Homo sapiens: one gene and its partner. The protein of the gene in region 2 interacts with the protein of the main gene of each other region in a pairwise test. Each region holds a gene or a part of one and is shown on either strand. Other genes may lie near its edges.

The links.
Region 1: the proteins of UGT8 (region 2) and AGTR1 interact in a two-hybrid assay, tested with the Homo sapiens proteins (one large-scale study listed by BioGRID and IntAct).

What each region holds. Positions count from the first base shown.
Region 1 is NC_000003.12:148,700,885-148,704,712, reverse strand, and holds part of AGTR1 (type-1 angiotensin II receptor), read right to left. Parts: intron 1-3,828. UniProt on the Homo sapiens protein: Receptor for angiotensin II, a vasoconstricting peptide, which acts as a key regulator of blood pressure and sodium retention by the kidney.
Region 2 is NC_000004.12:114,622,730-114,626,557, reverse strand, and holds part of UGT8 (2-hydroxyacylsphingosine 1-beta-galactosyltransferase precursor), read right to left. Parts: exon of another isoform or gene 3,680-3,828; 5' UTR 3,678-3,679; coding exon 2,856-3,677; intron 1-2,855. UniProt on the Homo sapiens protein: Catalyzes the transfer of galactose to ceramide, a key enzymatic step in the biosynthesis of galactocerebrosides, which are abundant sphingolipids of the myelin membrane of the central nervous system and peripheral nervous system.

The DNA of each region.
Region 1 (3,828 bases), on a different chromosome or scaffold from region 2:
ATGGCTGTCAGAGAATCTACCTGCACTGGGTGAAACAGCTCAGGGACTGAATCATTTGGGGAGTCACTGGCTTGAGCATTGACTGGTTAGTAACTATATTTTACTACATTTTTGTAAACCATGCTTGTAGTAAATAAGCATTTATATTAAAAGCTGAAAAAGTAATATGTAATTTGAGTTGGAATGCTGAACAGTCTATGTGTATGTAGAAAACAGAAAATAACTTGTCCAATCCAAGGGAGAATTTACTTTATAGCATGAGAGCACCAAAAAGTAAACAGAAAATTTTGGATTTTTATGGGAAAAAATAGAGATATCAAAAGTTGTTATTATTATTATTATTATTCGAGACAGGGTCTTTCTCTGTTGCTCAGGCTGGAGTGCAGTGGTGTGATCATGGCTCACTGCAGCCTTCACCTCCCAGACTCAAGCAATCCTCCCAACTCAGTCTCCTGAGTAGTTGGGACTACAGGTCCCAACTACTACATGGTGTGCGCCACCATGCTCTGGCAATTTTTTATTTTTTGTAGAGATGGGGGTCTCAGTTTGTTGCCTCAGCTGGTCTCAAACTCCTGGCCTCAAGTGATCCTCCCAAAGTGCTGGGATTACAGGTCTGAGCCACCATACCTGGGCTCCAAAGTTAATTTTTAAAAGTATGTCATCTACTATTTTTTTAAAAAGCTTTATTGAAGTATAATTGATATACAAAAAGCATGCATATAAAAATATATTTTAGTGGATTTGGACAGGCTGTCATAGTTTTGGTATTTTTTCAAACAGTTAAAGAAGGAATTTCTAGAATTTCCCATTATTGCACTTAAAGGTAAGGTGACAGGAAAACATTAGATCAAAATGGAATAGATCTTGTTTGCTTTTTTTAAAAAAAATTTATGAGGGAAACAGATTTTGATCTCAAATTAAAACTTTAAATAAATTTTCAAATAATTAGTTGGCCTTAAAAAGTAGGTAGCCCAGTATAGAGCAGACACTGTAGGTAACAGCTAAGAGAACAGGCAATGAAATTAGAATTCTTATGTTTACATCTCGACTGTATCAGTTACAGCTTTTGGGTAAACTACTTATCTCATTATTACTTGGTATCCCAATCTATAAAATAAGGATAAAACAGAAACTATCTCACAGGGTTGTTGTGAGGATTAAATAAAAAAAATTTAAAGAAAGACTGAACGTTGTGTTTGGCACATTTATGTACTCAATAAATATTAGCTTTATTAAAAACGTTAGTTAAGAGCCAAGAAAACACCTCTTCATAATTATTCTAAACAAGCCACAGGTACGGTACACTGTGTTTCTTTTCCCTTAATGTGCATTTGAATCACCTGAGGATTTTGCTAAAATGCAGATTCTTATGCAATCAATGGGTCTGGACAGGGTCTGAGATTCTGCAGTTCCAACAAACTCTCAGGTGATACTCATGATGCTAATATGGGAACTGGGATACGTGAGATAATTTTAGATGGTTTCCTCCTAATTTGTAATACAATGTGTCTCAACAGGGGGAATGAGGACAGGGGGAGAAAAGAAGGTGTGGATGAAATGTACAGATTTCATATGCCCCCTGGGTGATTCCAGTATTCTTGTCTCACCTGCCTCTGTCATCTTAAGAACCACCGATTTGATATTTCAACCTTTTATTCTTTTTAATTTTTTCTTTCCTTACTCTTTTCTCCACTTTACCCTTGTCATTGCTGCTGTAGACTGAAAAACTGTATTCATGCTTAGCTCTTCAATTAGCAAGACAAAAGCATCAAATTTGTCATTGTGTGTAATAGGACAGTGTATCTAAATGAGATTAGAAAAATTATTTATTTCTTAACATTTCTTTTTTAAAATATAAAGGTCTGAAAATGTATTTAACATTTTCTGTAGTTTTAGCCAAAAACAAACAAATAAGCAACAAACAGGCAAGCAAGTGACTCCGTGGAACATTTAGTAAAAGAAAACAAGGATGCGTTAGGTGCCATCCATACTGTCAAAGGAGTTATAATCTCACGAGGAGGGGAAAGGAGCAGTGGTTATTACAGAAGTGGCCAGAACCAAACAGTGTGACCACTTTAGACACACCATCTGGTCTGAAAGGCAGGACAGAAGGAGGGGCCATTTTTAAATGGCTTCCCACCCTACTAGCATTAGGCTATTAGAGACCCATGCCAAAATATGTGCTTAGCTTGACTACTATCTCTCTACGGCAAAGACCATTTTTATACTTTGGCTTGTATCCTCAGGGCCTAATATCACTCAGATCCACAGTATTTCCTCTGTAAGTACCTGCAGCTGTTGTTGATATATTTTATAGACATAATTCTTCATTTTCCAAAGTAGATAAGAGGAGCTTTGACTAATATAGAATCAGAAAATATCTAAATAAACTTAGCAAATTAGCAACAACAAATTCTCTTTAAAAGTACAAAATCAGGCCAGGTGAGGTGGCTCATGTCTGTAATCCCAGCACTTTGGGAGGCCGAGGCAGGGAGATCACTTGAGGTCAGAAGTTTGAGACCAGCCTGGCCAACATGGCGAACCTCTTCTCTACTAAAAATACAAAAATTAGCTGGGCGTGGCGGCATGCACCTGTAATCCCAGCTACTAAGGAGGCTGAGGCAGGAAAATCATTTGAACCTGGGAGGCAGAGGTTGCAGTGAGCCGAGATCATGCCACTGCACGCCAGCCTGGGCAACAGAGCAAGACTCTGTCTCAAAAAAAAAAAAAAAAAAGGTACACAATCATATGTGTATTTCTCAATATTCTTATTTTGTACTTAAGCATACAGAGTACTTAAATCCATTGAACTAAATAAAATTTCTACATTATTTGGTGAAGATGAAGGCATCTATGTGTGTATAAGTGGACAAGAAATCACACAAAAGTTGACTTAAACTGAAAGATTATTAATTCTATGATTTTAAGTTTTAAGGAAATCTAGAATTGGGACTTGAAATAGGAAGGCACATTGTAATAATAGGAAACAAGGCACACTCATTTTTTACCCATTTTCCAAACTTTTAAATGTTAAAAAAATTACATGTGAGATTAACAACACAATAAAAACATTCTTGGTAATAGGAAGGAGACTGATAATCACTGAGAGATTCTAGACATTTGTTTCTACTTAAGACAGTTAGAGAATGCACCTATCGAAGAAACAAACACAAACAAAACAAAAACAAATTCAAACCCTTCTAAATTAACTATAAGAATAATGTAATCATACAGCATTTATACTACATAATGAATTTTTTGTTACTTAAATATTTTGGAAGACAATTTTGATTTTCATATGCAAGAAAGTTTTTCCTCATCTGAGCATCTGCTTTGATAAGAAGAAAAATCCCATAGCAAATATTTTAATGTTAATACAACCACAGCTAGCAGCAATAGTCACTAGTCCTTTTATGACTGTTCCAAACATATACTCTGTTTTCTATTTCCAGTTGTCTAATTTGTCACTAACGTAATAACTAGGGAAACATCTGGCAATTTATAGTTCTTTAAATTATAAGATTTTTTTTCTGTGATTGAAATATTGCATTTTAGAGCTTTAATAGGATAATGGTAGTCACTTGCCAATTTAGTTGAATATTACCTTAAGTCCCTATAGATATTCCTTGATTTAAGATGGCTTTATATATTAAGCTATTAAAAAGTTGATTTTTAGAAGCTAAAGTTCATATTATGAATAAAACAAAATGTAAAGTGATAGCTAAATTTAGGATACAAATCGATCAAATTTACTGTTGCTTATCAGAGATTGAGTATACTGCTTTAACAAGCAGCTACAGTGAAAAGAAACACAAACCACATAATCCA
Region 2 (3,828 bases):
ATGCTCTCTACAGGATTTCTTTAGGATCAAACATTGTGAAAGCTTATTTAAAATGTCCTTTATAAATTTTCTCTGCCCTTTCATCCCAGGTTGTGAAATTCAGTCCCACTGTAAAATCATTTACAGACATCTGGAAAACCTAATCTATGCCCAGTGTAAGATACCAGGGCAATTAACAATTAAGCTGCTATATGTGAATCATGTGTTCTACGCAGCTACTTTCTGGGCCTTCCTGTGTTACTGTCACAACAATGCCCTGTAAATAATACAGGCATTTGAGAAACTCATTAACTTTTAGAATGAAAAGGTACAGTTTATTATCTCAAATAAATCTACTAGAAAAATCTCAGTGGGAACATGTGTTCATAAGCATATAAAACCACACCAGAATAAGGAATACCTGAAAGAGTACTGCACATCATTCTTCAAAATACTCCCTGCTCAAAAACTATAAATAACATTCTGAAATGAAAACAGCCCTTCACAATGATAATCTAATAGACTTCCAATAATAATAATATACTTATCTATGTCCACATACTATATATAACACATGCACACATGCCATGTCTGTGCATGCAACCAAACTAACTGGCACAAAGCAAACTTTGTAAACAAAAAACGCATTTCAAAAGAACCACTACAAATAGCCCAGAGGAAAAAGAACTCCACAAAGAAAGTCAAGCCAGTGTCAAATGAGAAATTATGGCAAATTAAAGGATATTTTGAGTAATACCTTATGTCGAGCACCAAAAACCACTAAAAAGATGTTTTTCATGTAAAACAAAATAGTGACACTAGTAAGGACATCTGTGTGCAGAGGAATCCATGACAGAAAAAAATGCTTGGATGGTAGAAAAAAAATTATCACATGCTATGCATCTTTTTGAAAGGTAGAGTATTGAAAATAAAACATAAAATATTTTCCTACACTTATACTGTGTCATTCAAGTTGCTGCAACTCAAGACAAATATACAGCAGGAACTGGAAGGAAAGAAAAGGCAATCAGGACAGGACATTCCTTTTTTTTTTTTTTTTTTTTTTTTTAGACAGGGTCTCACTCTGACACCTAGGCTGGAGTGTAGTGGTGTGATCTCAGCTCACTGCGGCCTCGACCTCCTGAACTCAAGTGATCCTCCCACCTCAGCCTCCTGAGTAGCTGGGACTATAGACATGCATCACCATACCCAGCTAATTTTTATTTTTTGTAGAGACAAGGTTTCACTATGTTGTCCAGGCTGGTCTCGAACTCCTGGACTCAAGTGATCCTCCTGCCTTGGCCTCCCAAAGTGCTGGGATTACAGGCATGGGACACCGCGTCCAGCTCCTTTTCATCATATACTTCTTCTTCAATCAAGTGACTGAAGAAGAGAGACATCACCCAGATGAAAACCAAAGGGAGCTGGCAGAAGGGGAGTGTTCTAGCTCGGAAAAGATGATGACCTAGAGAGAACAAGGATGATTTGTGTAACATTTTAAATGACTCAGTTAAGGTAAAGACACACCTTGATTACCAAATCTTTTAGAAGCTACTTCTAAAATCTGATTTTAGCTACCTTTAGGAAGGTGACTCTGCCAGAGAAGATCTGAGGATTCAAAATGAGCTTGGATAAATTCAAGAATGGCTAAGATAAGCTGAGATTAATCCCTATCCTTTACAGTTGACGTCAGAGAGAACAAGTGTGCCCTCATGGCCTCCAGTGGCTGTATATATTTGAAATGCTGTGGGTGTACAGGCCATTTCTGTTTCCATGTTATATGAAATATATCGATATATTATTTATTAATTATAACTCTAATGGCCATATTAGAAAAGCCTACAGGTCGTATATTTCTAATCACCTTATTGCCTCACGACAAAATTCAGCCATGTGATTGTCCTCATCTATACGAGAAAATCTGGATTTACTCTTCATCAAGGCCCTGATAGAATTTTTAATATGTAGTACCAGAACTAGAAATCAACAATTTAGCAAAATTGTTTTGAGTGGCTATTTCCAGAGGTAGGATTAAAAGTAACTTGAATAAAGTCCTGCAACAAGCCCTACACTTCCTAGTAAATGGGATCTGATGTTGAGGTTAAATTGAGAGATTCAATCTGAGGTTAGAAAACTCACTACAACAATAGGTATGTGTATGGCTTCTGCTAATGTGGGATACCTAATAAAAAACAAGGATGGTGAACAGAATACCAAGGGATTTACTGTTGGCTCAATCAATAAAAAGAATTTAAGTTTCACATAGAGAACAGAGTTTCTTAAAGTGCCATTGATTCCATCATTGAAATGAAATTGCAATAGAGCATGCTTTCCTTAAAACCATTACATTTACTTACTAGCTTAAATTAACCAACTCCCTACTTTGATGGAAGTTACCACCTCACTTTCATTATTGGACATAAACTAGTGGTAATAACCTCCCAGAGAAGAACCTCTGTTCACTGACCTGAAGCTAAACATATATACCTGTTAATTGTGCTATTTGGGGCAGAACAGAGGGGATTCTGTGTGTAATTAAAGATAAAATCACTTATACTCATTAAAATTAACCATTTAACTATATTCTCCTCACATACTATAACTATTACTTAATCAGAAAACTACTTCCCAGGCAGTCTATTGACCATATGGCATAGTGGTCTTTTCAGTATTACAGAAATGCTCATTCAAAGCAGGAATGTTTCCCAGGGAAGTGGTGGACCCACATAAAGGGACTTTGGAGGCCCCATGTCCTAATCACCTTTTAGTGTACTGTATATATACAATATATATAAATAACAAATCATATCTCTTCCAAAAATCAAAATTGACTTTTACATTAAAAAAGAATTACCAAGGAATTCGGCAAACCTTACTTCTGGTAGTGGGCTGGCTGGTTTGGTTAGGATTCCTCCTACATAAACAACATTAGGCAGAGTGGGTCTTGGGAATTCCAGTGCTACGTCAGTACACAGCATCCACAGGCTGGACCCATGAACCAAATCATACATGGACTTCTCTGGCAGCAGGTTGTACTTCTGCATTATCCTTTCATATTTGGGAAGAACCAGAAAGCTGACCCCTAATCTGGAAATGAGGTAAACACCGGTATTTTTCATCCTTTGCAGCAAGTTCATGCGGTCTGTGAGGAGTGAGTTAAACTCTGGGACGTATGCTAATGGAGCAGGAGCACCCACTTCAGCAGGATACCAAAGGCCAGTTGAAAATACAGCATATTTAACCCCTAAAAGATGAGCTATCACAAATCCACACATATCATTAGGGTCCACCAGCAGCAGGTCAAATTTTTCTTTCTTCAGACCCTGGATCAGGGCATGGTTGCCAACCATCAGGTCACAGTTCTTAGTATAGTGATCCAGTATGTCAAACAGTTCGATTGCTGTCAATCTCCCAGAGAAAATATTCCGCATCTTGGACTGTAGGAAAGCATCTGAGGTGGTACTGTTAAAGATCCCTGGGTAGCGCTGGAGGCTGTAATGATTAGATGGGGCGATGTCTCTGCCTTCAGAGAGGAGGAACACTGTATGGTGGCCTCTCTCGTGCAAGGCTGAGGCTAGCGTCTTGAAAATGTACATATGGCTTTCAAACATAATTGGCGGCACGATGATGATTTTGGCAGCCTTCGCTATCCCAACAGCACTCCACAGGAGAATGAAATATGGAGTGTAAGACTTCATAGCTGTAATAACAACCAGAAAACAACTTAAAACAAAATACAATGCTCACCATTCAAAACAAGCAATCACAAAGCATTTTTCCCCAAAAATATCTGATCTAATACTTTGTCTAAAAAAAAAATCATGAACAGACACTTCTCAAAAGAAGACA